Linked DNA regions of Homo sapiens: region 2 is linked to region 1. Evidence: fine-mapped expression QTL. Tissue or cell type: prefrontal cortex. Region 1 holds a variant in brackets; the other region holds the start of a gene. All regions are shown on one strand. Distances are from middle to middle.

Region 1 (2,686 bases):
AGACTGTCGTTGTTCTTGGGGTGGCCACGCAATCTGCAGAAAGCTTTCTCTTCTCAGTCCAAACCTTTGCCAGGGAGAGGCTCAACCTGGGGAGGCGAAGCCAACTGACTGGTCTTTTCTGCCTCATTGGCTGTATTACTGCAGAGCCACTGGCCTCCAGGGCTGCTTTTAGCTGAATGTAGTGACCTCACTAAAGCTCAGACTGGCTGTGAAGTCCACTGGATGCTAGCTCTTTGCTTCTGGTATTTGAGAGAAAATGCTTAGGTTTGGATTTATGTCCCCTCTGTGGGCTGGCCAGGCAGATGGTCATGCGTCTGTGAATCTGTCCGAATGAAATGAGGCCAGACCTAGAGAAAGTCTTAGAGACAAGACTGTAGGGAGCGACTATTTCATTAAGCCCGCAAGAGCCCACAGCACCGCTCCTATACTCTGTTCTCTGTGTCCCTGTGTCTCATGTGTTTTACTGGTGTGTCAAGGGTTTGGGAAGGACGTTTAAACATTTCAGGGGCTGGCTTATTCTTTAACTTCGTGCACCAGTCCCTGTGATCCTGAACTTTGATGCGGAGTGTCAGAGGACTAACCAGGTTCAAGAAGAAAATGAAGTTCTGCGTCAGAAGGTTTGTTCTGAACAGGCTTGCTCCTGAGGAAGTACTTCTGCTTTTTGTGTGTGAAATTAGGTAGTGGCAGTGGAACACTATATTAATCAGGTTTCCACTGCCACTACCTAATTTCTCAGATGGAAATGAGTCACCAGAAAGTCAGTATTGGGGATTTGGAGAGTAACAGTCTCTGAAAACCAGAGGCGAGATTCATATTTTAAGTCAGATATGTAGCATGAACAATATAGTAACAGTAATTAACTTTTAAGGAGAAAAAGACTATATGCATCCATGCCACCTTATAACTAACCTGTTTTCATGTGTCTGTTTTGTCTTTCCACGTATAGCTATATATGTGTGTATATATATATACACATATATATGTAAACTATATGTATATATATAAACTATATATACACACACACACATATATATAGTTTATAACCCATATATAATTTAGTTGTTCCTACTCAGCTATATGCTTCTCTAGTTTGATAAAACAATAGAGCCAGGGGACCCACATTTGCCTGTACATGTTGCCTGAGGAACATTTCTCTTTCCTGAAATTAAGATCTCCTTAGGTGATATTGTTAGGAAAAGGAAGATTATAGGCTGTTTAGGTTATGGGGTTTAAGATTCTTGGGATTTGGGGTGTGTGTATATGTAATTTTCTTCAGGCAAAAGGTTAAAAACGCTGTAGTTCATTAACAG[GTT/T]TTTTTTTTTTTTCCATTCCAGAGTCAGGCTTTGAGAGTTCTAAAGCCTGATTTTGTAGATTCTAAAAAGCAAAACAGGTTGGGTGGAGCTATTTTTCTCAGTGAATCTAGGAGGAAGCAAGTCAAATGATTAAAAAGAAAATGGGTTTTGGATTTCTAATGGTTTTTGGTTTTCTCACCTCATTGTTGTCCAGTGACAGCAGTCACTTTTCCCAGTCTGCAGTGAGCAGAGTGAGATGGGCCCCTTGACGCTGAGGCGAGTGGCACTCAGACCAGTGGGCTTGGATGCGATGTGTCTAGAAATCTTCCTCCGCAGAGGGAAGGTTAGGTGAGATCATTGGCTAACTCAGTCCCACCCCTGTATAGCTTTTTGCATTGCAAGCTGAAATCCACCGACTGAAGAAAGAGGAGCAACAGCCAGAAGAGGAAGAGGCCTTGGTCCAACACAAATTGCCTCCTTATGTCTCCAACATGGACCGCCTGGGGGACTCGGAACTGTGAGTGTGTGTGACGGCCCTTTCCTTTTCTTTGCCCTCTGTGCTCTCAGCCCCACAGTTCCCTCTGATCTTGCCTTGCCTGCAGTCCTCTGTGCCTGCTGAAGGAGAATTGCGGAAGAGCCTCCTGGCACACACTGCTCTTGCTTGAGAGCTTTATTTTTATTTTTAGAGATGGAGTCTCGCTCTGTCGCCCAGGCTAGAGTGCCGTGGCACAATCTTGGCTCAAAGCAACTTCTGCCTCCTGGGTTCAAGAGACTCTCCTGCCTCAGCCTCCCAAGTAGCTGGGATTACAAGTGCATGCCACCATGCCTGGCTAATTTTTTTTGTATTTTTAGTAGAGATGGGATTTCATCGTATTGGCCAGGCTAGTCCCAACTCCTGACATCAAGTGATCCACCTGCCTTGGCCTCCCAAAGTGCTGGGATTACAGGCGTGAGCCACCGTGTCCAGCCTTGCTTCAGAGCTTTATGAGTAAGGTCCCCATGGCCTCAGAAGTCCTCTAGGAGTTCTGAGCCTCCGAGCCTGTGGCTCTGCCTAGAGGTGGGGAACTGCACAGCTCTGCCAGCTCTACATCCAGATATGTGTAGTCAGGATAAATAAAAACGCAACCACTGTGGTAAAGTCTTGGGAAGGTTTTGTGCATTGGAAGGAGCATCTCATGTATGGAAAGATTGGTAACCACAGGTTGGATGCATTCCTCAGTAGAAGCATGCACCTCTCTGACGGTTTAAAGAGGAAGGCAGATTAGAGAGAGGTATTTGACCTTCAGAAACAGCCAGTTAAAGCAGAAGCCCCAGCTGGTGATAATAATAGTAGTGGTTGAAGAAACAGAGGTACACACAGGTGAGGAAGACAGTGATTGGTGAGTCACGATGCA
Region 2 (2,686 bases), 220 kb after region 1:
GTGATAGCTTAGCTTTTTCAGCCAAATTATTTCCCAACTTCAATGACAATAATTTAAACATCCAATTGATTTTTATATCCAATTGATTTTATAATATTTTAATTGGGGATTTATATAATACAAATTTTATCTCCAAGTAAAATAAAGTTGAGAAAAACATACCGATTCATCTTCATCACTGATTGTTCTGTCTGAATAGTCTTCCTTTTCTGAATCTTCTGACATCTTTTCCAGTGTTTGACTTGAGATTTCTTGTAATATACGGGTAGGCTGTAAAACAATTTCTAAGGAAATTATATGACAGCTTTTCTTTTCAAGCTGTAGGTGTTTACTACATTAAATGAGTACTCAAAAATATATTCAATTGTATTTAACAGTCACAACAGTCTTCTCTAAAAACTAATTAGAATACAACTAATAAAACCTTCAATTTCAAAGAGTTAAAGGAATTTTCCATGACTATACGAGACAACAACCACAATAAGACAAATCAAGCAAATCATTTAATTAAAAGGAATTTCCAGAGTATACAGCCAAATCATTCACATTTTATATTTACAATTAAATACTACACAGCAAGTTCAGAATGATCCTGAGGCATTAAAAGATAATGAATTTAAAAATTATAGTCACTTACTGAAATGTAGCAATATAATTTTAAGTTTTCTCCTTGATTTTCACTTGACCAAAAGTTCAAGTGACAAGACTTTACATTTTGATTATTATTCTGTAGATACTGTCTGTTCTAATATTCATTTATATTATTCTTATTCTTAGAAATCTAAATAGCTACCAGAAGGTTGTATTGGTAATGACCATTACCATTCTATGCAAGTATCTTCCCATGTGGGTAATATCAAGACCAGGGAATAATCGAAATTTCTTGTCAAGTTCCCATCGTTCTTGAGAGACCAAAGGACTCGACAATTTCAAATCTATTAGTTTACGCCCCTCTCTACAGGAAGCGTGTTTTGGAGCGTGGACTACATATAAGTTAAGTCCAAGCTCTATGGCAAATCACTGCCAATGCCACGGAACCGACTGTCTCATAGATGACACCTTCAGTCCTAAGAAACTGAAGTTTCTGCCTGGGCATCACAACTCCACATTTGGAAAATCCGACTGGCCTAAATTCCATTCCTTACAGGTGCACACAGGGCGCACGAAGTGCTGACCTGCTGCGGATACAGCTCTGGTCTCAGGAAACGGCCCTTATCCACCGGCGCTCCGCGGGTGTCTTCCACCACTGCGGAGGAGGGGCAGATGCGGGCGCGTCCACGCTTAGCCGCGTCCCGACAGTACCAAGGCGTTTTTGGCGGGAAGCACGATGAGGCCACAACTCCGGGCGGCCGAGTTCCTTCCCGCACTCACTCCTGGACACCTTGGTGTGGGGAGGCGCTCATTTTCCGGGGCGCGCTCGCTTCCCGCAGGGGGCGCCCCGCCTTACTTCTGCATACCTCACCGTCCTGTCGGGGCCGGCACCTCGCTCCCACGCGAGTCCTCTGGCCAGGCCAGTCGTCGCTTCCGTGCGGGGAGAATATCTCGGGATCTCGCGATCTCGCGGAGAACCCGGTATCCAGCCGCTAGAAGTAACGCCACTGCTGGAGATCCGCAGCCCCAGCCACACTCCCAACTCTCGTCATCAGGCAACGGGTCCGCCCTCGCGAGACTTCGGACAGCCTTCGGAGATCACCTAGCAACCAGCTCGGAGGAAAGGAGCCTGCGTAGGTTTTGGCTCCAGGAAGAGGGATCCCAGAGGATGCCGGGAACTCGGGGTGGGCCGCAGGGCGGTCAGAGAGGCTCTCAGAGAGGCTTTGGGGTCTGTCGGGAGAATTTAGGAGTGGGGAAGACCGGGCAGCTATTTATTCCCAGTGGTCTGCACTTCGGCTGTTGCCTCAGAGGAGGCAGTAGAGCATGCTGGTTAGGACTGTGCTTTGGAGCCCACCTGACTTTTAACAGTGTGACATTGAACAAATTAATTACCTGGACTTCATGGGTACAATACTTGTAACTACTACTTGGAGATGTTAGAATATTAAAAAGTACGTTGGTCTTGATTTTTTACAGACTGAGTTCCATTCTACACAATTGTGCGATTAATTCGCTTATTCGATTCTGGAAAATGAGGCTTTTCTCCTTAAATACTAAATGGAGAGTCATAGATGAACTAGGGTGAATTCTCAAAATTATCAGCTCAGAGATTCTTTATAGCAATCGTCAGCTAGCATATTTAACACTGTTTTCCTGATGACTGCAAATCACTATATGTAGTCTCATTTAGTTAACAGACGTTATTCATGAACATCCCATATTGATTTTTTCCCTCATCTTTAGCTCTACAGGGTAAGGTAATCTATTTGGAAAAGTTTTCCAAGTACAGCTGAAAAAAAGTCTAGATTTTGATGATATAAGAATGTAAATAAACACTTTTCACAAAGCGTTATATGTCATGAGATTCGTGATATTGTAGAAATGGAGATAATAAATGGTAGCAAGTTTGAAAGTAGAATAAAGGGCAAAGCACTATGGCTTAAGCATGGAAATGGGTTAACATAATCTCTTTGTATTTTGTAAGTATCTGAAAATAGGTGTTTTTGAGGTCAGCAGTTTAAAAGTATGAACCTTCCAGATTAGACCTTGGCCAGAGAATATTAATAGAGTATATCTTAGATCAACCTCTTGAAAA

Direction of the effects. Positions count from the first base shown, and alleles are read on the strand shown. Sizes are in standard deviations (SD) of each study's normalised expression.
With allele T in place of GTT in region 1, the expression in prefrontal cortex of the gene that starts at base 1,651 in region 2 is higher (moderate effect, 0.67 SD a copy in BrainSeq).

The links. PIP is the estimated chance that this variant, and not a neighbour inherited with it, causes the effect.
Region 2: it holds the start of AGBL3, and the variant in region 1 is fine-mapped to the expression of AGBL3 in prefrontal cortex (BrainSeq, PIP 0.95).

The regions. Positions count from the first base shown.
Region 1 is chr7:135,205,051-135,207,736 of GRCh38, reverse strand. WDR91 (WD repeat domain 91) reads left to right here. Exons shown (of 15, transcript NM_014149.4): 4 at 535-617; 5 at 1,679-1,809. It overlaps MIR6509 (microRNA 6509), which reads left to right and starts at 659; the gene lies at 659-743. RefSeq lists a silencer at 668-827. The variant GTT/T (reference allele first, on the strand shown) is at 1,311.
Region 2 is chr7:134,985,473-134,988,158 of GRCh38, reverse strand. It overlaps AGBL3 (AGBL carboxypeptidase 3), which reads right to left and starts at 1,651. Exons shown (of 17, transcript NM_178563.4): 1 at 1,458-1,651; 2 at 163-284. The coding sequence starts at 225. RefSeq lists enhancers at 960-1,219, 1,300-1,439, 1,450-1,749.